Linked DNA regions of Homo sapiens. The protein of the gene in region 7 purifies or fractionates together with the protein of the main gene of each other region. This does not show direct contact. Each region holds a gene or a part of one and is shown on either strand. Other genes may lie near its edges. The genes, in order: CALU, USP5, COPB1, GCDH, TXNDC5, SUCLA2 and BCL2L14.

Region 1 (3,500 bases), on a different chromosome or scaffold from region 7:
AACAGTAACTCATACTCAGACATTAAGTTACAATTTTCTAAAAGACAAAGTTGGTTTGATTTTTGTTTTTTAATTAAACAAATATCTGAGAATGAAAATAAAGAGGGTGAAGGACACCTCGGGAAATCATAAACTTTATAGGGATCCAATGTGCCGTTTATTAGCCCATCAAAGACTTGGCTTGTGCCAGGTCAGTAGGGCACAGATAGTTTTTAAAAATTAAAAGCAGTAGAGATGAGAAGAGATGAGAAATCCCCCCATGCTATGTTCTTCTGGTAGCAAGATAATGCAGTTCAAGTTGGGTCTTGCAGTACTTGGTACTTTTATGCAAAAATGATGCTTTGTAGAATGAGGCACCAACTGTTATTCAATTAAAAATGTATGAAATCAGGCATTTAATGAAATTTTAGAGGTAGTAATTCCATGGTTAGCTTTCAGAAGATGTATTAATAGTTCAATATAACTTTACTCATAACTGAGCCAGAAAAGAAAAGAATTAGCCTTTATAAAGAATGTCATTACCCACACTAGACCCCTGAGAGGTGGTACCTTACCCAAGCCTTTCCTTGCTCTCTTCTGGTGTCAGCTGATCAAAGGTCTTTGCTTCTTCAGCACCCAAGAAGGCATCATGGTCATAATCAAAACTCTGAGCATCATTGTGAACCTTGTCACTGAGCTGAGGCTCATGATGTACACGGTCCTTCTTTTCTGTGGGTTTGCTCAAGGCAAAGGCTGTGCACAGGGACAGGCACATAAGAAACTGTCGCAGGTCCATGATAATTAGATCTTGAAGAAAATGAAAAGCAGTTAATTCAGGAGGCAGTATGCTTAATAACTAAATAAGAAATTAAAAGCTCACATCCGAGTTAAACTATTAATTTGATATACATATCTATGCAAGTCTTTTATATTATCCCAAATATTACTTCATCCATAAAATAAGTATGGTGGAATATCAGACTCTTCAATTATTACAGTGAGAAATTTTTACCAGTTTCCTTCATCTGATTGTAGGCTGATAAGAAACTTATAGTTAAAATGTCCACTTTCTGTTTTCTTTCAAAAGATACCAAAGTAGAATTTTAATCCTTTTGCCCAAGTTCATAAGAATTAAAAGTGAAAGAACCAAGGTTTAAATGTTGACTCCAAATCCTTTACTTCTTGTACGCATTGGTGGTCTGGTCTTCAAACATGGCTGGTTATTAGAATCATCTAGGAAGCTTTAAGTTTCTCCTATTGATTTAGAGTCTCTGAAGCTGAATTCAGACATTCGTAGCTTTAAATGTTTTTCAGGTGATTCTGATGTTCATGAGATTAGGAACCAGCGAAATACTTGGCAGCTTCCTTGGTCTATAGCACCAAGTCTCCAACATCCAGGCTCAACCTTGAGTCACCTTCAAAGGCCAAATCATTCAGATGGTCTAGTCATAGATAAGAACGTCTTTATCCTTCTGCACAGTTGTTTCCCATACTTGCCTAGGCATAAATACCACCTGTAGTACTGTTCAAAGTACAGATTCCCAGGCCCTGATTCAAACTTTCAGAATCTCTGTAGTCACAGGTGACTCTAATGAACAAGCACAAAGCTGGAACACTTGACTGAAAAATGTGACAAAAAACCTGCAAAGAAGCTGCAGAGTACACATCTGTTTAGCACACTCTACTGATACCCCGTGATACTATCCAGAGTGGTTAAGGTCTTAGAGGGAAAAAAAAAAATTAAAAATCAAGAAGAAGGGTTTTCAGGCTTTTACATTTTTTCTTTCATCACTGGGAAGGCAGCTCAGTGGGGGAGGGTGGGAGGTCCTGAAATGGCAGAGGAGGACATATCAGTAGAGAGTGGAAAGTGTTCTAGAGTAAATACGACAACACAGTAAGACAAACAGAAAAGTACCTAAGGAGATAATGGGGGCGGGGGTTGGGGGGCAGTCATTCCCAAGTGCCCCAGTCTCAAATAAGGTACTGTTACTGATGACGTGAAGGTTAAGACTTAGGAAAATCCATCAGAAGAAGCAATGTGAAAGCAAGACCATGAAACCCATAGAGAAATGGGTAGAAGATGGTACTTATTACTCTATTCCTATCAATGTTAGAACTTGGCTATGTTTCTCAACATTGTTTCATTCAATCCCATCAAAATACCCACATTTACAGACAAAGATACTTGTATTAAGATGTTCAATGATGACAGTTCACAATGATTAAAAAATCGGAAAACAAATAAAAACAGAGAATTGGTAAAATATATTAAATCTCGATTATGGAAAAATACACAAAGGTTAAAAAGAATGGGCCGGGCGCAGTGGCTCATGCTTGTAATCCCAGCACACTGGGAGGCCGAGGCGGGTGGATCACAAGGTCAGGAGATCGAGATCATCCTGGCTAACACGGTAAAACCCCGTCTCTACTACAAATACAAAAAATTAGCCGGGCGTGGTGGTGGGTGCCTGTAGTCCCAGCTACTTGGGAGGCTGTGGCAGGAGAATGGCGTGAACCCAGGAGGCAGAGCTTGCAGTGAGCCGAGATAGCACCTCTACACTCCAGCCTGGGCTACAGAGTGAGACTCCGTCTCAAAAAAAAAAAAAAAAAAAAAAAAGAATGACATGAGGCCGGGGGTGGTGGTTCACGCCTGTAATCCCAAGACTTTGGGAGGCTAATGCAGGCGGATCACTTGCATCCGGGAGTTTAAGACAAGCCTGGGTGATAGCGAAACACTGTCTCTACTAAAAATACAAAAATTAGCTGGGCATGGTGGCATACACCTGTAGTCTCAGCTACTCAGGAGGCTGAGGTGGGAGGATAGCTTGAACCCACCAGGTGGAGGTTGCAGTTAGCTGAGATTGTACCACTGCACTCCAGCGTGGGTGACAGAGATCCTATCTCAAAAAAAATAAAAAAAGCAGCCAGGCATGGTGGCTCATGCCTGTAATCCCAGCACTTTGGGAGGCCGAGGCGGGAGGATCACTTGAGGTCAGGAGTTCGAGACCACCCTGGGAAATACGGTGAAACCCTGTCTCTACTAAAAATACAAAACTTAGCTGGGTGTGGTGGCACACGCCTGTAGTCCCAGCTACTCAGGAGGCTGAGGCACGAGAAGTACTGGAACCCGGGAGGCAGAGGCTGCAGTGAGCTGAGATCTCACCACTGCACTTCAGTGACAGAGCGAGACCCTTCCTCAAAAAAAAGAATGTAAAAAAAAAAAAAGAACGAGATGCATCTATCTGCAGTGAAATGGAAAATTCACCAAGATATGTCAAGTGAACAAAAAAAGCAAGGTTCAAAACAACGTCAAGATCTCATTTACATAAAAAGCAAAACAAAATTAAACAATCTCCCCAGCTTGTTTTTATTTGTATAAAATATAACATGCACATAAATGGTGTGCAAAGACAAATACCCATGTGTAAACAGTGGTAACCTCAAGGTTCATGGGAGAAGAGACAGGAATGGGGTGGGCTGGTAAGATTGGTGTGAAAGTGAACTTTAATACTGTATCCTGC
Region 2 (3,500 bases), 5.2 Mb from region 7:
GGGGGCCTGGGGAAGGAGAGGGCACTACTCACTTCCTCTGGAAGTCAGGGATGCTGAAGAGCACCTGGACCACAGAGTTGAGGTAGCAGCTGTTACCCAGGTTCCGGATGCCTGTGTAGCCAGGCCCAAACAGGGGCTTGAGTGGCACACCTGACTCCTGGATCAGCTCCCATTCACCAATCCGCTGGTTCATGTCTATCTCCAACTCAGTCATCGTCTTGTCTGTCTGTGTGAGAAGGGGCACTTCAGACTGAGTGAGAAACTCAACCCTGTAGTTTTTACCTCGATCTCTCACTGAGTCTAGGATGATACTCAACTGTGGCCTAGAATTTGTGGAATTACAGGCTCAAACATGGGAGGTATGTTGAGTATCGTCCAGTTCAAGTTCTGGAAGGCCACACATAATTGTCCCAGAGGCCCGTTAGTCATCAGGGCCTCTGCTTGAATGAGGAATAAAATTTCCTTCTACCTGAAATGTTTTTCCCATCCTTAAGTTACCCCTAACCTCCTTCACATTGTCAGTTAAGCATCGCTTCCTCAGGGAAATGTCCCTGATCCCTAAACTAGGCCAGGCCACCCTGCTGTCAATTACTGTAGTACCCTCCGCCTCTCTTTCACAGTGCCCACCAGTTTGCAACTATTCACTTATTTATCTGGGAATGTGACTAATGTCTGCCTTTTCTTCTAGAGTAGAACTCTTGTAAGCAAAAACCACATCTGTCTTATTCACACAGCCTCTAGCACATAGTAGGTACTCAGTACTATTCACTGAATAAATGATTTTAGATATTTAAAAGAAGCCTGTGTATCTTGGGGATGGGGTTAACTAGAAGATTTCTCCAAAACCCTACCTCAGCCTCAGGCAAAGAGGAAGGGCCCTCACAGGGGCAGGAAGTAGAAGAATCTGAAGTTGAAGGGGGTCTCACCTTCTGCATCTTCAGCATGTCGATGCCGAAGTGGGACAGGTGCTCAGCCAGGCTGGGGTCCAGGACCATGTCATCCTCATCATATGAGTACACGTCTAGAGCAGGAGGCAGGAAGAGAATCAGGGGAAGTGGCTCAGGACTAGCCAGGCCACCATCCCATCCCTTGCACAGAAGGGACTTGAGGGGACAGAAGGAGAGCCAGTAAGGTCCACCCTCTTGGTTCCCTTGAATATGAGTAATATGAGTGCGGTCATGGCCCTTCTGGGGCTGACGGTCAGGGAAGACAGATGAAACCGGGTGAGGGTTGGAATTACTTGTGATTCTGATTCTACCTGTATAGGATAAGGTAAGACAGGCTTGGTAGGAAAGGGATGAGGATTTGAGTGGGGAGTAATCAAAAATTTAGTCTCATCTGCAGTATTTTCCTTTTTTGAGACAGGGTCTCTGTAGCCCAGGCTGGAGTCCAGTGGTGCAATCATAGCTCACTGCAGCCTCAACCTCCCGGGTGCTCAAACAATCCTCCTGCCTCAGCCTCCTGAGTAGGTGAGACTACAGGCAGGAGCTACCACACCCAGCCAATTTTTCTTTTTTTTTCTTTTTTGGAGAGATGAGGTCTCACTATGTTGCCCAGGCTGGTCTCGAACTCCTAGGCTCAAGCAATTCTCCTGCCTTGGCCTCCCAAAGTGTTGGGATTGCAAACATGAGCCACCGCACCTGACTACTTTCCTTTCTTATCAAGATAATGCATTCATGTATTATACATGTCACACGAAATTACTAACAAATGAAATATATTTAAGCATGAGAGTGGCTGGAGGAGGGGAGGCTGTACCAGCTCCATCAGGGGTGATGGTGCCCAGCTTGACAGCTAACGGGTAGCCTGTCTCTCGGTAGTGCTCCACAGCGTGGTTGTTGCCCCCACTGCCATCGAAGTAGCGTCGCCCACAGAGGATGGAGCCATCAGTCAGGTTGAGCCACAGGTTCTCTCTCATGTCACACTTGGAGCACTTCCAGCCACTAACCCACAGAGAAGAGAATCAGCAGAAATGTGGGTCGGGGATTTGAGGGAGTGGCAGAGAGAGAGGGCTCTGCAGGCCCCCCGCCAATCCAAGGTCTCTCTCTCTTCTCCTCTGGCCATCCCCATGTCGTGTTCATTTCCAAGCTTCCCTTCCTGTCCTGCTCCCTACCCTCTCTCCCACCAGATCCCCCAGAAAAGTGGGCTCCTTGTCCTTGCTCTGGGGGTGGTGCCCGAGGCAGAGGGGCCAGGCCTCACCAGGGAGGGATTCGAGCAGGGTTGTCCAACTGCTTGAGGCTGAAGGCATGCTTAGACACCTGCCGTACTTCCCCATCCCATGCCTGCACCTCCTGCTTGCGGGAGGCTGAGTCGGCCGACAGTAGGGCCTCCACTGCACTGGTCACCTGGGGGAAGCAGAGGGTCAGAGGCAATACCCAACCCCCTGCCCCACATGCCCCTCTTCCCCTTGGCCTTCAGCTTTGTCAGTGCTTGCCTAAGACACCACTACCCTGGCCCATCTTGCTCTAGAATCTTGGGTAGCATAGGGGGCAGTCATACCCGATCTCTGACAATGTCAGGCAGTCCCCCCAGTCCATCCCGGGCAATCTCCAGGTAATCTGGCAAAATGACAATCTTCACATCCTCGTCTAATTCAAACTTCTCCTCGCTAAGGTCAAATCCGCCTTCAACACCTGGAAGGATAGGGAAGAAGAGGGAGAGTAGAGCAATGACAACAGGTCAATGTCCCTCCTCCGAGCCAGCACCTCACTTGCCCCATCCAGAGTTCTAGGGCCATCAATCAGGCCCACTCTTTGGGGCTTTCCTGGTGCTGCTGAGAGCCAGAAAGACCAGCTCAGGGAGAAGAATAGGACTGCAGCGGTGCTCACCAATAGCCAGCCGCGTGGGCTTCTTCCGGGGTGGGTCTCCAGTGCCTGTAGCAGGGTCCTCCTCTTTCTGTAAAGAAGCAGGAAGGGCTGGATCAGCAATGAGCACGAGCGAAGGAACAAGTCGGGAGGAGGGACGGAAGGAGGTAGTGCTTCATCTCAGAACGGAATAAAGCTAAAAAACATCTGTGCCAAGCTTTAATGACACAAAAGTAGGTGAAAAAAAGAAACTGAGTCCAATAGGAGGTCAGAATGGAACAGACAATGTACCCAGGCCTTGCCCCAGCCCTGCTCCTACCGGGCGCCGGGTCCGCCGGAGGTGCAAGTAGACTCGCTGGCCGGTCTTATTGAAATGTCTCTCCACATACTGTTTCCCAAAGCCCAGAAACGTGTTCATACAGATGTAGAGGCCCCCCTCAGACTCCTGTGGGACAAGAGGTAAGGGTGAAAACACGAGGATGTTATGAAGCCTGGTCAGGTGAGGAAACCAAAACCTGGAGTCAGAAACTGCTGGGTTCCAGAAGAAATGTTCTGTTCTCTAACACTGTGTGGCCCTTGGCAAGTTATTTAGCCTTTTAGGACCTGGGACATAGCTAAGATTCTCCCCATTTCCTCCCATGACTTTGATAACAACCAACAAGGACATCAGGGGGCTGAGGAACACCAGCTCATCGT
Region 3 (3,500 bases), on a different chromosome or scaffold from region 7:
GAACTGCTAAGGGCACTCTGAGTTGCATAGGTACCCATTTCAGTAACCAATTTCTGAACTGGCCCTACAGTTATTTCTTCTTCAGGTTTTAATTCACCAGCTTCTTTCTTTATTTCTGACTCTACAATTGGGATCTAAAAGTCAATTGGAAACATCATTTTAGTAATAGTATCAACAGCAAGCAAAATTATCTTTAAATATTTGATTGTTTCTCTAAAAAAGGCATTACCCTAATGGGATTTTTGGAACTGGGAACTCTGCTTTCAATTTATTTCCTTCCCAGGATAATGTAGTAGGTAGAATAGGGGCTTCAGAGATGGATATTCCAGGGTTTGAATTCTCACTCTGCCACTTACTACTTTGGACCTCAGTTTCTTAATCTGCTAAGTGGAAATCTTAATTCTTTCTACACATTTTACCTAATAGAAAAATGCATTGGACAGTGTCTAACACAAAGCAGATGGTCATTAAGTCGTATTCCTCTTCTTCATTCCTTTCCTTGAAATTTTAACCAAAACAGTACTCATCCTTCTAAAATGAAATAAATCCGACTTATTTGTACATAATAACCTCATCAACTAACTTTTAAATTAACTGAATGGCTATTATGTATTTATTACTCAATACCAGTCCATTACCTAATATAAGAGCACTAAGAGTATTTAATCATTACCTATTTTAATTTATTTTATAGGTGAAAAACACTGATGTCAAGTTAGGTTGAGGAACTTATATTCAAGGTCCTCCAGCTAACTGTCGACACAACAATGACTAGAACTAATTGTCAGGTCTCCTGATAATTAGTCCACTGTTCTTTCTATTCTACCATAAGGTTGTTAGGATGAAGAATACTGTCAGTTTTACTGCATAAATATTCTGAAGTCAGACTTACTCTAAGGCATTCTTCCTTCAGAATACAGGCTAAAGCAGAATTTTACAAGCTACTGCTTCTTTTTTTTTTTTTTTTTTTTAATAAACACAGAACATTTTGTTCAAACAAAATCTAACTCAGAAGTGTAAATAATGTAAGCAAATCACTATAAAAAGTCAGATTTTCCTAAAGGAAAAATTACCATATAAACTAACATTTACTAAAGTAAAACATACCTCTCCAAGGGACCTGCGGATCTCAGTCATCACACTCTGAATGTCTTCCTTGGTACTACAGTATTCTCCCAGGATCCATAATGCTCCTCGGTAAATCCTAGCACAATACAAGATCTGAAACATGAACTTGGCAGACAAATCTTGAAGCAGAGATCTTTCTTTGTTAATTTAAGCTCAAATAAAAACAAGGGCCAGGCACTCACGCCTGTAATCCCAGCACTTTGGGAGGCCGAGGCGGGCGGATCACGAGGTCAGGAGATCGAGACCATCCTGGCTAACATGGTGAAATCACGTCTCTACTAAAAATACAAAAAAATTAGCCGGGCATGGTGGCGGGCGCCTGTAGTCCCAGCTACCCGGGAGGCTGAGGCAGGAGAATGGCGGGAACCCATTCTCGGGAAGCGGAGCTTGCAGTGAGCCAAGATCGCGCCACTGCACTCCAGGCTGGGTGACAGAGCGAGACTCCGTCTCAAAAAAAAAAAAAAAACAAGGGCCAGGCACGGTGGCTCACGCCTGTAATCCTAGCACATTCGGAGGCTGAGGCCAGCGGATCACTTGAGCCCAGGAGCTCAAAACCAGCCTGGGCAACATGGTGAAACCCCATCTCTACTAAAAATACAAAAATCAGCCAGGCATGGTGATGCACATCTGTAATCCCAGCTATTGAGGAAACTGAGGCATAAGAGCTCCTTGAGGCCGGGCACAGTGGCTCACGCCTGTAATCCCAGCACTTTGAGAGGCTGAGGCGGGCGGATCACCTGAGGTTGGGAGTTCAAGACCAGCCTCACAAACATGGTGAAACCTCGTCTCTACTGAAAATACAAAAAAAATTTGCTGGATGCAGTGGCACGCACCTGTAGTCCAGATACTTGGGAGGCTGAGGCTGGAGAATCGCTTGAACATGAGAGGCGGCGGTTGCAGTGAGCCGAGATCGCGCCACTGCACTCTAGCCTGTGAGACAGAGCAAGACTCCATCTCAAAAAAAAAAAAAAAAAAAGAACTGCCTGAATCCAGGAGGCGGAGGTTGCAATGCCCTGAGATAGCGCCACTGCACTCCAGCCTGGGTGACAGAGCAAGCTTCTGTCTCAATAACAAAAAAACAAAAAACAAAAACCAACAAGATTCTGCAGTTCTAAAGTATTTTAGATAAATATTTCAGAAAGAATCTAACAAAACCTAGGTTTCAGTTCTCTCCAGAAATCACAAAGATTAAAAGTAAAATAACTGTTCTTATTATTAGGAACATTCTAAAACTGGTAAACCTAGCAGTAAAAATAAAATACCAAAATGTTTCCCAGTAAAGTGTCCATTTAGGACACAGTGAAGGCAAATTTGGCTTAATCTCTTACTACTCTAAGAAATGTATTATTTTATGGCCAGACACTGTGGCTCACACCTGTAATCTCAGCATCTGGGGAGGATGAGGTGGGAGGATTGCTTTAGTCCAGGAGTTCGAGACCAGCCTGGGCAACAAAGCAAGGCCCTCATCTCTCTTAAAAAAATAAATAAATAAAGTAAAAACAAAACAAAAACAAAAACAAAAAATCAGGAATGTATTATTTTAATGTAAAAAGTAATTCACTTTTTATTTTCAGTCACTGAAGAGGCAAGGTGTTGAACTGAACAATGGATACAGAAGAAGTACAAGGGATCAGTAAAAAAATAATAGTAAAGAAAGCAACCATTCATTCATTCATTTAGATTAAAAAAATAAATAGAGACAAAGTCTCACCATGTTGCCCAGGCTGGTCTCCAACTCCTGACATCCAGCAATTCTCCTGCCTTGGCCTCCCAAAGTGCTGGGAATACAAGTGTGAGCCACCATACCCAGCCAACAATTCTTTAGTTTAAAATGTTAAACTGAATAAAGTCCTTAGTCATCTTTCCCCTAAGATTTTAATTAAATTTATTCAGAAAAACTTAATTATAGAAACCAAAGCTCTAAGAGATTATGGCTGTCAAAAACAAATTCTTAATGTCATAGCTCTTTTAAAATTTGTTTAGCAGGCTTTCTGGTTTTTGCCGGAAAGCCCTCTCACAAAAAAAAAAAAAAAAAAAAAAAAAGCAAATCCTTAATATGATTTTCTTCTCACAAAGGAAGCAAATCCTGCTCTGCTCACTTCCATAAATATTAATATATTTTCATATCATAAAAACAATTTTGTACTTGTCCCTTCCTTCCTGAGACATATTTCAAGTCTGTTAGAGACTATCCATCAGATGCTTTAAATGAAGCAAAATTTAGATGCAACAGTCCTTTCTCATTAGCAAAGGCTCTCTGAAGGGAAAGACAGATTTAGGTTGCATTTTCAATCTTTCTCTTCATTAAATGTGAAAGGAAGATATAAATAATAGTAATAGCCAAAAAGTGATGCCATTTAAAAATATGCTCT
Region 4 (3,170 bases), on a different chromosome or scaffold from region 7:
CTGGCCAGTGGGACACCAAACTGCATCCTACATGGGCAATGGCAGGGTAAGAGCGAGGGGAGGCCCACTCTCCCACCCCGTCCCTGTCCTGGGGCCCCCTGCTCCAGGACGCCTTCCCAGGCTGCCTCAGTGCCCCCAAGCTTGCCCTGGCCCTGCCGTTGACTCAGCCCACAGCTGCTCAGAAGGACGTCACTGGTCATTCCAGAGCAAGGAACTCAGGCCTGGTGGGTGGGGGCTGGGGAGTCACCCATGGTATAGAGAGTGAAACCCAAGCTGCCCCACACCCCCAGAGAATCTCACTGCAGCCCTCACACACCTGTCGAGGGCGTACTGCCGGGCTGTGTGCAAGCAGAACTCCGAAGCTCCAAGCACGCCCCACGCGATGCCGTACCGGGCGTTGTTCAGGCAGCCGAAGGGACCCTGTAGGGTTGAGATGGCGCCTCAGGCCCACCCAAGAGACACCAAGAGGGCCTATGCAGAACCAACTCTGAAGCAGGGAAAGCCTCCTCCCCAGCCACCCCACGCAGGGGGACTCAGGTTGTGGTTCACATCACAGATGGCCCTGGCACTGAAGCTCGGTGCCTGCTCACTCGGTTTGCACACAGTCCCACCCAGCCTGGCATCTGGGTTCGATGCTCAGAGCCAGGAGGCTGACGGATGCCAGAAGATGCACTGTGAGTCAAATGACTGAGCTGGTTCAGGCCCATGTGTCCCGGGCAGAGCCGGGATGAGCGAGACGGTCACCAAATGGGGGCAGTTTTCAGCACGTCAGCGAGTCCGGCTGAGTAAGAATCACCACTGTGTGGGCTCCACAGGCACAGGGAGCCGCGTCCCCAGCACGGAGCCTGCCTGACAAAGCCGCATCCGCAGGTGACCCAACACCCATTCCCAAAGTGGCTGCCACTTACCCCCAGGCTGGATGCACCAGGGAGCACATTCTCCTCTGGCACCTCCACACCGTCCATGATGATCATGCCTGTGGCTGAGGCCCGCAGCGAGAACTTGCCCTGGATCCTGGGGGCCGAGAGACCCCGCATCCCCTTCTCCAGCAGGAAGCCCCGAATGCAGCCATCTTCACACCGAGCCCACACTACAAACAGATCGGCCATAGGCGAGTTCGTGATCCTGGGGATGGAACAGTCGGTGAGGGGTCTGACCAGTGCCCCTTTGCCCCTGTTCACCACCTGCCCACCACCCAGAACCCTTACCAGGTCTTGGTCCCATTGAGGGTGTAGCTCTTGTTGGATGAGTTGTAGTGGGCTCTGGTCTCCATGCTGCTGGGGTCACTTCCGCTGTTGGGCTCTGTGAGCCCGAAGCAGCCCAGGAGCTCCCCCTTGGCTGCAGGCACAAGACAAAGTCACAAGGCTGCCTGGTCCCTGATACATCCCCTTACTCAAAAATTATCCTCGTGGCGGGGTGCAGTGGCTCACGCCTGTCATCCCAGCACTTTAGGAGGCCAAGGCAGGTGGATCAATTGAGGTCAGGAGTTCCAGACCAGCCTGGCCAACATGGTGAAACCCCATCTCTACTTAAAAAAAAAAAAAAAAAAAAATAGCCAGATGTGGTGGTGGGTGCCTGTAATCCCAGCTACTCAGGAGACTGAGGCAGGAGAATCGCTTGAACCCGGGCAGGAGAGGTTGCAGTGAGCCAAGATCATGCCACTGCACTACAGCCTGGGCAACAGAGCAAGACTCCATCTCAAAAAAGAAAAAAAATCCAGCCTGACCAATATGGTGAAACCCCATCTCTACTAAAAATACAAAAAATTAGGCCAGTCGAGGTGGCTCACACATGTAATCTCAGCACTTTGGGAGGCCAAGGCAGATGGATCACTTGAGGTCTGGAGTTCGAGACCAGCCTGGCCAACATAGTGAAACACCATCTCTACTAAAAATACAAAAATTAGCCAGGCACGGGTAGCAAGCACCTGCAATCCCAGCTAATTGGGAGGCCGAGGCACAGGAATTGCTTGAACTGGGGAACCGCAGGTTGCAGTGAGCCAAGATTGTACCACTGCACTTCAGCCTGGGGGACGGAGCGGGACTTTGTCTCAAAAAAAGAAAAAAAAAATTACCCTCGCCCCTGAGTCAGACCTCATAACTAAGTTAGATCTGGCCCTGCTTTCAAGAGACAGGTTACCCCAAAGTCATGATCACAATGCCAAGATGGGGAGGGGGACCCAGGGAATCAGGAAGGAGTTGGCCAAACTGGAAGGGTGTGAGGAGTTAAGCAGGAGGAGGCTGTGGGGAAGAGCAGTGCTGGGAGAGGGAACAGATGTGTAAAGAACTGGTGGTACTTCTGGAGAATTTCAAGTAGCTAAGTCTGGCTGGGAGGATCACATGAGTGGCCAGAGATGAGGTGGAAAGGTCAGCAGAGGCCTGGTCACACAGGGCCTTGTGGGTTTTTTTTTTTTTTTGCGAATCTGATCTTATTTGTTACTCAAAAAATCTTATTTCTGACTGGATTCAGACTTAGAAGTGGAAGCTCGCAGAGAGGACAGTCTGCGTCTCTTCACGATTTGTCCCTGGTGCTTCTTAGCCTCCTTCATTCTCTTGGCCAAAAGTTTAGCATATTCTGCAGCCTCTTCTTTATTTTTCTTAATATGCGGCTGCTTCAGAGCAATACGCCGCTGTTTGTGCTGCAGGACATGTGGAGTGACAAGGCGCTGAATCTTGGGTGCTTTGGTCCTAGGTTTCTTACCTTCTTTGTTTAAGGGCTTTTTTACAACATACTGGCAGACATCATTTTCTTTAGAGAGACTGAAAAGTTTACGGATTCTGCTAGCTGTACTGGGCCCCAGGTGACGAGGCATCATAGTCTCAGTCAGTCCAGGAATACCCTTCTCTCCTTTTTTTTACAATAACCAAGTTGAGAACACTCAGATTGGCATCCACGATGCAACCATGAACTGATCTTCTCTTTCTTTCTCCAGTTCTCCTTGGTCTGTAATAGGAATGCCCCTTACTCAGTAGCAAGTGGACACGGCCATGGGTCAAGACACCCTGTTTCAAGGGGAAACCTTGTTTATTGTTCCCACCACTGATTCCGACCACGTAACCCTTCCATTCTTCACCCAGAGCGTCAACAGCAACTTCTGTGGCCATACGCTTCTCATAAAAAGTACAAAGTTTGCGTTCATCGTCCACTTCAATGAGTTTCTGGCAGCCAGT
Region 5 (2,886 bases), on a different chromosome or scaffold from region 7:
TAGACTGATTACACTGAGGTGAGGCTACAAGGGGTGTGTAACCGTGTAACACGTGAAGGCAATGCTCACCTCTTCTTTACCAGAACGGTTCTTTGACCAGCACATTAACTTCTGGACTGCCGGCTCTAGTACCTTTTCAGTAAAGTGGTTCTCTGCCTTTTTACTATACAGCATACCACGCCACAGGGTTAGAACCAACGAAGAAAATAAAATGAGGGTGCCCAGCTTATAAGAATGGTGTTAGGGGGATGAGCATGCTGTTTATGAACGGAAATCATGATTTCCCTTGTAGAAAGTGAGGCTCAGATTAAATTTTAGAATATTTTCTAAATGTCTTTTTCACAATCATGTACTGGGAAGGCAATTTCATACTAAACTGATTAAATAATACATTTATAATCTACAACTGTTTGCACTTACAGCTTTTTTTGTAAATATAAACTATAATTTATTGTCTATTTTATATCTGTTTTGCTGTAACATTGAAGGAAAGACCAGACTTTTAAAAAAAAAGAGTTTATTTAGAAAGTATCATAGTGTAAACAAACAAATTGTACCACTTTGATTTTCTTGGAATACAAGACTCGTGATGCAAAGCTGAAGTTGTGTGTACAAGACTCTTGACAGTTGTGCTTCTCTAGGAGGTTGGGTTTTTTTAAAAAAAGAATTATCTGTGAACCATACGTGATTAATAAAGATTTCCTTTAAGGCAGAGGCTGGTCGAGATGCTGCTGTTATCTTCTGCCTCAGACAGACAGTATAAGTGGTCTTGTTTCTAAGATTCCTACCACCAGTTACTTTGGGCCAAGTATCCACATCCCCTTGCGTATGGGAGGTGGGTGAAGAGTGTTGGATGCAAAGTGGTTATTATGGGAAGTAGCTCGATGGTAAAAGGACAAACACCTATCTATCTTAGAGCTTAAGCCTGTATGTGCTTATTCCCAAGGGAGATAGAGGTGTTTAATCACAAGGACAGCATGAGTTAGAGGACACTGGCATCAACAGCTGCCACAGCCGTGCACACCAGGGCCAGAGCAGCCCACTGACATCTGTCTTTGGTCTTGAGATCAAATGCATCCCATTCTTCATACATTAGAAGGTCGACCTCCTTGAAGCAGACCAAGTATAGCAAGCCTCTAAAAGGACTACTGAGAAACAGAATCAGAAACTCTAGAACTCTAGTTAGGGCCCTTCAGCAGGGCTGCAGAGCCTCCCTGGATACCCAGGCCTGGGAAAGCCTGTCTGGTCTTGTCACCCCAGGTGACAAATACAACTGGAATCTTTCAATGAGTTAATGAGATACTGAGAATGAGCCTCGTGGAATTTTCCATGCCTACCCTTTCTAAGGAAGACATCCAACAGTTCATGTGGGCTCTGGCTTCGTGTTAACATGAGGAACTAAAGACATGTTTCACCCCGTGAGAAACAGAAGGATCCCCTGAACAGTAACTGATTTGACAAGTATCGACACATAAAGTTATGGCATCAGCATTCTCTTACTCAGGCACGGTCAGAAGTAACGCTGCTTTCATCACGGCTAACCTCTCACACTGAGAGAAGTATTCACAGCAACAGAAGCTCCAGCAGCGGCCGTGAAGGTATCTTCCAGAGGTGTGGGTTTTTGCATTTCAATCTGCTCCATGCTACGGACCAACACAGTATTGAGTCAACTGTGACCTTAAGATCAGAGGAACGTCAATACTGCCACAAGGCCACCTTTCCAGAACTCGTGGGCAGGTAAACTATGCTTTGGATGTGCTTTCTTTCACCAAAATCACTCAACTCAGGAGCCACAAATAGTCCAGCAATTTCATTTCCCTCAACGCTATTTTAGTCTCAAAGGAAACCATGTAAATTTCATCAAGAGAAGGTCAAAGGGGATATATCGCCACTGAAAATGTTTACACAGTGACCATGAGTTACACATTTACTTAGAGAAACTTAACTTAATAAAGAATCTGTAGAGTGTGTTGGCTTGGAAAACACACACACAAAGAAGATACCTCACGCTTAGTATGTTCTGCTTTCTGAACAGCCACCACTGGGAACCCAGTGGCCTCTGTGGGACTGAACTCCTAAACGCAGGGTGCGGGAGCTGGGCAGGAGAGGTGACCTCCAACTGTGTTCCTAAAGTTCGTCTTTCGCTTGGCTCAGGACAAAGCGGTGTAACGAGTCAAGGTCTCTGCCTCCACTGTGCTCACTGACTTTCTTCCCTCCTCGGAAAAGCAATAACGTGGGGTAGCCTCGTACCTTAAAACAAAAAAGAAAAAAGTTTGCAAACCAGCGGTCCAGATCACATGCAAATTGCTTCCTAAATAAAACCAGATACACTCCTACCGTTGTGGCTGGAAAAATTCTGTGGCTAATTTTTAAAGGTGTATATTCCATTAAAACAGGAGCAGACTACTGTTTAGAAAGCACAGCCGTGGGGCTGTGTGTTCACTTCTGAATTCAAAATGACATCATTAAAGATCAGCCTCAAAGGAACGACTTTACCCTAAAGCAGACGCTTTCAGTCTTTACTGTGCACACGATCACCTGCGGATCTGCTGAAGGTGCAGATTTGGATTGAGCAGGCCTGGGAGTCTGCATTTCCAATGACCTCCCTGGCGATGCCCTGGTGGTCTGCAGACCAGACCATGAGAGCAAGATCCTCTTGAGGATACATGTTTCAGTGGCAACTCGTTTCTAAGAATTTTAGGGCACAAAAAACAACTGGTATCTTTTAATGATAAGGAAACTATGTCTGGGTTACGTCTATTCTCCATCTAAAGGGCTCCAAAAGTGTCTGAATAACAAAGAAGAAAAAAAATGACAAATCTTCCAGGCCATCAGACTGTGCTAACAGCTTGGAATGAAGGCAGTAGTTAACCCAAGCACAGGACC
Region 6 (3,500 bases), on a different chromosome or scaffold from region 7:
CCTAGGCCCTCCTGGTTGCTCACTCTGTTCCAACTGCACTAATCCCCTCACTATTCCTGGGCATGTTCCTGCCTTCAGGACTTGGCTCTAATGCACCCTCTGCCTAGAATACTCTTCACCAGGTGTCCATGTGGGAAAAGCCCCCGATCCTTCAAGTTTCTCTTTAAATCTCATGTTGCCCATGAAGCTTACCCTACTAACCTGCCCACCTGTGACCAATCCCCCTTACCTACTACACTTCTTTCCGCCATAGAATTCATCATCTTCGTACATATGTAATTCTCTTACATATATCATTTGTTGTTTTGCTTCCCCATCAGAAAAGAGGCCCAGGAGGGCAGAATCTTTGTTGTATTCATAGATGTTAACAAGCGTCTGGGAGAGTTCCTAGCACATAATATTTTGCTGAATGTTGAAAAAAAGGAACATTTAAAAATATGAACAGAATTCTTATAAATCTAGATTTCTTCACTGCTCTTACGAAAACTCCCAATGGGAAAAACTGGGTGCACAGTACTACAACTAGAGCTGATTAGAAAAAGTATCTTGTTTAGATAAGACAAACCCTTTTCAATTACCCTGTCTCTACTATTCACAAATGTATCACAACTAATATTAGGTAACAAATAGAAACAACTCAGAAATTTCCTTAAAACCAACAATAACGTTCTTATTGAGAATACTACAGGTTGTCTCTGAACCATGGCAAATTAGAGAGTTTGTGCCCAAACGGAAGGGAGCAGCCACTATTTATTCCACTTGTTTCTGTTTACCTGTCCAGTCCTGATTTTCCAGCACTTTAAATATTTGTTTATATCCGAAGAAGAGAACTACAAGGCAAACAGTGCAAATGTAATGTAAAAAATGGTCATAGTTACACTGTGCTTTACTGAGCTAAATTCAATCATTCCTATTCATTAAACTGGGAACTTAACACATTGACCTATTAAGAGTAACGAAGCTCTATTTTTTCAAAAACACTTGGCAAGACAGAAGGTTCTTCTCTTCCCCGCAAAGTGTCAATTTCCTTTCTTTAGGAATATAAAGTCTTTAAGGGCAAAAGATGATTCTTCGAAAGTTCCTTCTAAAAAAAAAAAGCCCTTCACAACGAAAGCAAAAAAAAAAAAAAAAAAAAAATTTTTCATGAAATACAGTCTCATCAACTATCAAGAAAGGAAGAAAGATTAGAAGAGAAGTCTGAGGACAACTGGTCGAAACAAACATTTTATTCAATTCCATTAATTCACTCAACAGGTTCATCTACATACCAGACACTGTGCTAGCGTTGTAGATACAACAGTGAGTGAGACCTCTCCTGCCCTCATAGAACCTGCAGTCTTATTACATTTGGCACTGCTCTAGTCAGACAAGATCTTTTTTGGATCCCAAGACTGTCTCTAAAACACAATCACTATCCCAGCTACCTTTAGTCACTCACAAACATTTTAAGCATTCCTTGTATACAGGTATCTAACTAATAAATATTTAAAAGAAAGAAAGAAGGTAAAGTCCTATTATATGCCATTAGAAATCTCCCTCCGGGCTGACATTCATTAATCAGCACCCTTTACATGTATCTATTCAACCAGATAGGGATTCCACCTTAAATATACTAGAAGCCAAACTATCTTTCTATAGTCAATAGGGAAATTATAAAAATTCTGCCAAATCTGTGCCCAGGCGCAGTGGCTCACGCCTGTAGTCCCAGCACTTTGGGAAGCCAAGGGTGGGTGGAAGGCTTGAGCCCCGGAGTTTGAGACCAGCCTGGGCAACATGGTGAAACCCCATCTCAAGAAAAAATACAAAAATTAGCCAGGCATGGTGGAGCACACCTATAGTCCCAGCTACTCAGCAGGCTGAGACGGGAGAAGTGGCTTGAGCCCAGGAGGTCGAAGCTGCAATGAGCCATGATCACACCACTGCACTCCAGCCTGGGTGACAGAACAAGACACTGTCTCAGAAACAAAACAACAAACATTCTGCCAAACCCTTACTAAAATCATATTTCCTTGAACTATGAACTGTTAGAGATAATTTGCTCTCAGAACTGACCCCAAATAATATCTACTACATTTATCTGTGCTAATAACCATCCCTTTGATAATCTATTCCAGAAACTTCATGATCTTCAAGCTCACCAACCTTCATTTTGGGGACTCATATAGTCTTTTAAAATATTAGAATTAGATTTCTTTCTAACCATTCCTCCATTCCTAACCTCAATTATTCACAGCAGGTAAAACTTGCCTACAGGACAATGCCTCTCAACTTTTTTCACATCATCACACAAACAGAAAATGATGGACATGGTAGGAAATACTGGGTAAAGAGGCTCAGTGGCCCCAAACCCCATGCTAACTCAACTTCTCCTGCCACCACAGGACTGGGAAGAAACAATAGTTTGGCACACCTGTAAAGCATTTATGTTCTATTATGTCACTTGTTGAGCAAAGCGCTGAGTTAAGAGTTTTTATGAAGGCCAGGCCTGGTGGCTCACGCCTATTGTAATCCCAGCACTTTGGGAGGGTGAGGCAGGTGGATCACCTGAGGTCGGGAGTTTAAGACCAGCCTGATCAACATGGAGAAACCCTGTCTCTACTAAAAATACAAAATTAGCCGGGGTGGTGGCACATGCCTGTAATCCCAGCTACTCAGGAGGCTGAGGCAGGAGAACTGCTTGAACCCAGGAGGCAGAGGTTGCTTGAACCCAGGAGGCGGAGGTTGCGGTGAGCTGAGATGGCGCCATTGCACTCCAGCCTGGGCAACAAGAACGAAACTCCGTCTCAAAAAAAAAAAAAAGAGTTTTTATGAAATGAAAATTAGCATTTTATGAATTTTGCAGAAAGTCAAAAAGCAAAAATCACCCTGAAGTAATGAAAACTCAGCATTGGGAATTGCTAGCTACATGAACAAAACCAAGTGTATTTCTAAGGTCCCTCATTCTACACCTTGTGCAACTAGATCCCATAATCGTTATCTTTTGTTATCAATGACTCACTAAAAACACAAAATTGGGCTGGGTGCGGTGGCTCACGCCTGTAATCCCAGCACTTTGGGAGGCCTAGGCGGGTGGATCACAAGGTCAGGGGTTCGAGACCAGCCTGACCAACATGGTGAAACCCCGTCTCTACTAAAAATACAAAAATTAGCTGGGCATGGTGGCGGGCACCTGTAATCCCAGCTACTCAGGAGGCTGAGGCAGGAGAATTGCTTGAACCTGGGAGACGGAGGTTGCAGTGAGCCGAGATCGCGCCACTGCACTCCAGCCTGGGCGACAGAGTGAGACTCCGTCTCAAAAAAAAAAAAAAAAAAAAAACCACGAAATTGTCCTCCATATTTTCATAGACGTTTCTAAATTTATCTTTTAAAAACTAGCATTTCTGCTCCTCTAGATTTAAATTTCCTTGTTAATTATTAGTCTCCCTCCCACACTATAATCATCATTTGCAATATTCTTTGACAAAAAACACACTTTCTAAATGAACAAGGTATCTGTTCCA
Region 7 (3,500 bases):
GTGCCTTGAGTTACCACCAGCCTGATGGGATCTACAGTCTCAGCTATTGCTATGGTTTGGGTGACAACTGACCCAGCCTTGTCACTACTTCTCAGTTCTGCTCCATGTCTTGCACCATAGCTGGTGCCTGACAACCCCTGCTTTTTCACAAAGCCCTAAAGCAATGTTATAATATAAATCCCTGGCTTGACGCTCCAACTGTACCTGATGCAAATTGGCCCAGGGTCACTGGTAACATGATCAGATCTAACATTGCATTTTCCGCCACAGACAAGGCTGAATGCGGGCTTTGTGTTTCCTCCTCTCCCTCTGTAGGAGACTTTCCTTTCTTACTTAGCAGAGAGCTGGGAATGTTTTTTCAACCTGCTGGGGCAGCCCCCTTGCCTTGGGCTGGTGTCTCAAGCTGGAGCTCATTGCCCACAGCCTGTGGCTGTCAAGCCCTCAGTCCAGGCAGCGGAGACTGTCAAGTTGCCGAGCCCTGGGATGGATAAATACACAAATGCTCCTGCGCCCCTGCCTGGCAAACACTCCACCCAGGGAAGGAAAGCTTACCTTTCTTAGAACTTGAAGCTACAGGCACGTGGCCTTGGAGCTGGAAGGAGAGACCCTCAGTTACAAAAATCTCTTTGGACTTGAAGCCTCCTGCCTGGGTCGCTTGTGGTGGTGGCCAGGAGTAAACAATTTCAGCTACTCGGTTGGCAATGGAAATGACTTTGGGGTCCACAGCTGAAACAAGACAAAATGGTGCTGAGAGGCCCTTCCCAGAACTTCATCTGGCTCATTGGTATGCAAAGTTGCCTGGAATGAAAAGACCAGGCCAGAATAGAAGGAAACTGCCTGGGAGTATGTGTGCTGGGGGAGGGTCATTCTTCAGAAAGGACTGAAAGTTGCCTGGCAGAGGCCGGGATGTGGGAGGGGTGCATGCAGGAATGATTGTCACCTTGAAACAATTGGCCTTCTGCACACTCTTTTTGAAGTCTTGCAAAATTAGGGTCTCCTTTCCCCTTTGCAAGGGAAGAGACACAAAAAGGAGTGCTTAGCTCTTTACTTGAAGGAATGCTCATTATGCTTTTATTTTTATTCTTTTTTCTCGACATGCTTTATACCTCTAAGAGCCAGCCCCTACATGCATAGGAGGACATTCGATAATTTGACAAGCATTTCGGGGTTGGTCACTGAAGAAAGAAATATCCCTGCTCTCAGGGCAATGAGATTCATCATCCAAGTCCATTATCAAGTGAACACCTAACTCCCGTTGCTGGTACAGTTCTGCCTCTTCTCTCCTCTCCATGTCTACTGGAAAACATTCAATGAATGCTTATAGGTAAACAAGGATGCAGTCAGCACAACTTACGGCCTTCAAGAATTTACAAGCTGAGAAAAGAGTTACGTCATGTATTTGCATACAGAATTGTAGAATAAAGCACTTTGAGATAGGACGGTGAAATGGCATTGGCCCAGTGAGTGTTGTAGCCTATAAGAGACCAGTCGCCTTTGCCCCTGAGTGGGGAAGAGGGGAGGTGGGGTGGGCAGATGGCATGGCTGAGTTGCTGGGTGGTAAAATTTTCACTGTTGATTTGTCACTAAGTTCTAACCTTTTATTTGTTTATTTACTTTTTTCCAGACAGAGTCTCACTCTGTCACCCAGGCTGGAGTGCAGTGGTGTGATCACAGCTCACTGCAGCTTGGATCTCTCAGGCTCAAGCGATTGTCCCACCTCAGCCTCCTGAGTAGCTGGGATGACAGGTGTGCATCACCACGCCTGGCTAATTTATTAAAATTCTTTTTCTAGAGATAAGGTCTCCCTATGTTGCCCAGGTTGTTCTTGAACTCCTAAGCGCAAGCAATCCTCCCACATCAGCCTCCCAAAGTGCTAGGATTACAAGGATGAGCCACCACCACACCCAACCTAAATCCTAAACTTTTAAAAGCTTGTACAAGCTGTCTTGGATGCCGTGTGGAGCAGCTGGGTTTTACCATGTAACATTTGAAGACTAACATTAGGTAATTCACAGGACTTGAAGACAGTAATGGAGTGGCGTTTTGGACAGAAGGTTGGTGTGCTCAAACTCCTAGGGCACTTCTGGGCTTTGTACAGCACTGGAGGTAAGAGAGGCAAGTAGGGGGCCTGGGAGGGACTGAGCCACAAGAGAAACAGGTTTTGACATCATATGCAGCTGCCAAGGTGGCTCCTGATCCCTCTCCCTGGATTCCTCCAAGCTGAAGGCTTCAGTGTCCTCCCTTCAGCCCTCCAGCCATTCACGGAAAGGCCACAGAAGATACTGCTCTGTCCATGATGCCATCCTCTGGTGGACATCTGACTCATAAAGCCATCTTTTCCATGGTTAGTCCACAGGGTTCAAAAACCAATAAGAAGCGAATGACGGAGAGAAGAAAGATCAAGAAGAAAAGGATCAATGTCTTTCCTCCTCGTTTTTTAAGAACCAAGCGAAACAGACTTTCCACTTTGTAATCCCCTTATTGCAGCCCAGCCGGCCTCCGCTGGAACTCTGGCCACCCATGGCCCCTGGCAAAGAAAGAAATGGCAAGAGGCTATCTTCCAAAGCCAAGGGAAACTTCCCTGGCCATGTCCTCAGGAGATGAGAAAGGAAAGCAGGCCTCTGCTGCCTTTTCAACCTTGTGCAGCTCATCTAGGGTAATCAGCATGCGGTTCTACCACCAGAAAGCACCCTGTGCCCATCTTGCACATTAAGAAGCTCCATGAAGGGTCCCAAAGGCTCTGTCCCCTCCTCCTCTCATAAGGCAGGGTGGCCACAAGATCACCAACAGGTACAAAATTACTCAATCTGGCTAACTGTGTACAGGGTATTGACTTTTTTTTTTTTTTTTTTTTTGAGACGGAGTCTCGCTCTGTTGCCCAGGCTGGAGTGCAATGGCACGATCTCGGCTCGCTGCAACCTCCACCTTCTGGGTTCAAGCCATTCTCTCTGCCTCAGCCTCCTGTGTAGCTGGGATTACAGGACGTAGTGGCTCCCGCCACTACGTCCAGCTAATTTTTGTATATTTTCAGTAGAGACAGGGTTTTGCCATGTTGGCCAGGCTGGTCTTGAACTCTTGACCTCAGGTGATCCTCCTGCCTCAGCCTCCCAAAGTGCTGGGGTTACAGCAGGGTATTGATTTCTGTGGGTTTGTGGACATGGAGTGAGACATGTCCAGGAGAAACTATAAGCAAACATGTTCCCACAGATGCACTAGCTCTAGTTAAAATTCCCATCTTGGATATTTTAATTTTAAAACATGAAAAAGAAAAGATTATATCCTTGTCAGACTTGGTCCTGTCTGATAGGCGAGGGAACACTGGATGGGGTGGGGAGAAGACAGAAAGGCTGTCTGTTCCTTGGAGTCTGTTTTGGGGGTCATCGTGGCGCCAGGAAGAGCAGGCCAACAGGGTCGGAAGGTCCCATTTCGCCTGTGGTCTGAGGCATTTGTTTTAAAGAGAAAGGGCAGGGGGTTGGGGTGTGACTTCCTTATGGACTGCT

The links.
Region 1: the proteins of BCL2L14 (region 7) and CALU purify together in Homo sapiens (affinity purification with mass spectrometry; one large-scale study listed by BioGRID and IntAct). This does not show direct contact.
Region 2: the proteins of BCL2L14 (region 7) and USP5 purify together in Homo sapiens (affinity purification with mass spectrometry; one large-scale study listed by BioGRID and IntAct). This does not show direct contact.
Region 3: the proteins of BCL2L14 (region 7) and COPB1 purify together in Homo sapiens (affinity purification with mass spectrometry; one large-scale study listed by BioGRID and IntAct). This does not show direct contact.
Region 4: the proteins of BCL2L14 (region 7) and GCDH purify together in Homo sapiens (affinity purification with mass spectrometry; one large-scale study listed by BioGRID and IntAct). This does not show direct contact.
Region 5: the proteins of BCL2L14 (region 7) and TXNDC5 purify together in Homo sapiens (pull-down; one large-scale study listed by IntAct). This does not show direct contact.
Region 6: the proteins of BCL2L14 (region 7) and SUCLA2 purify together in Homo sapiens (affinity purification with mass spectrometry; one large-scale study listed by BioGRID and IntAct). This does not show direct contact.

The regions. Positions count from the first base shown.
Region 1 is NC_000007.14:128,745,859-128,749,358, reverse strand, and holds part of CALU (calumenin isoform a precursor), read right to left. Parts: intron 1,807-3,500; exon of another isoform or gene 1,005-1,806; coding exon of another isoform or gene 992-1,004; intron 787-991; coding exon of another isoform or gene 776-786; coding exon 555-775; intron 1-554. UniProt on the Homo sapiens protein: Involved in regulation of vitamin K-dependent carboxylation of multiple N-terminal glutamate residues. Seems to inhibit gamma-carboxylase GGCX. Binds 7 calcium ions with a low affinity.
Region 2 is NC_000012.12:6,855,150-6,858,649, reverse strand, and holds part of USP5 (ubiquitin carboxyl-terminal hydrolase 5), read right to left. Parts: intron 3,296-3,500; exon of another isoform or gene 3,250-3,295; coding exon 3,124-3,249; intron 3,022-3,123; exon of another isoform or gene 2,896-3,021; coding exon 2,829-2,895; intron 2,634-2,828; coding exon 2,500-2,633; intron 2,346-2,499; coding exon 2,200-2,345; intron 1,944-2,199; coding exon 1,759-1,943; intron 1,022-1,758; coding exon 927-1,021; intron 227-926; coding exon 33-226; intron 1-32. UniProt on the Homo sapiens protein: Deubiquitinating enzyme that participates in a wide range of cellular processes by specifically cleaving isopeptide bonds between ubiquitin and substrate proteins or ubiquitin itself.
Region 3 is NC_000011.10:14,475,812-14,479,311, forward strand, and holds part of COPB1 (coatomer subunit beta), read right to left. Parts: intron 1,205-3,500; coding exon 1,108-1,204; intron 135-1,107; coding exon 1-134. UniProt on the Homo sapiens protein: The coatomer is a cytosolic protein complex that binds to dilysine motifs and reversibly associates with Golgi non-clathrin-coated vesicles, which further mediate biosynthetic protein transport from the ER, via the Golgi up to the trans Golgi network.
Region 4 is NC_000019.10:12,894,160-12,897,329, reverse strand, and holds part of GCDH (glutaryl-CoA dehydrogenase, mitochondrial isoform a precursor), read right to left. Parts: exon of another isoform or gene 2,419-3,170; intron 1,339-2,418; coding exon 1,209-1,338; intron 1,126-1,208; coding exon 909-1,125; intron 421-908; coding exon 317-420; intron 28-316; coding exon 1-27. UniProt on the Homo sapiens protein: Catalyzes the oxidative decarboxylation of glutaryl-CoA to crotonyl-CoA and CO(2) in the degradative pathway of L-lysine, L-hydroxylysine, and L-tryptophan metabolism. It uses electron transfer flavoprotein as its electron acceptor. Isoform Short is inactive.
Region 5 is NC_000006.12:7,881,017-7,883,902, forward strand, and holds the end of TXNDC5 (thioredoxin domain-containing protein 5 isoform 1 precursor), read right to left. Parts: intron 2,251-2,886; coding exon 2,128-2,250; 3' UTR 501-2,127; downstream 1-500. UniProt on the Homo sapiens protein: Protein disulfide isomerase of the endoplasmic reticulum lumen involved in the formation of disulfide bonds in proteins. Can reduce insulin disulfide bonds.
Region 6 is NC_000013.11:47,991,274-47,994,773, forward strand, and holds part of SUCLA2 (succinate--CoA ligase [ADP-forming] subunit beta, mitochondrial precursor), read right to left. Parts: intron 1-3,500. UniProt on the Homo sapiens protein: ATP-specific succinyl-CoA synthetase functions in the citric acid cycle (TCA), coupling the hydrolysis of succinyl-CoA to the synthesis of ATP and thus represents the only step of substrate-level phosphorylation in the TCA.
Region 7 is NC_000012.12:12,084,439-12,087,938, reverse strand, and holds part of BCL2L14 (apoptosis facilitator Bcl-2-like protein 14), read right to left. Parts: intron 727-3,500; coding exon 553-726; intron 1-552. UniProt on the Homo sapiens protein: Plays a role in apoptosis.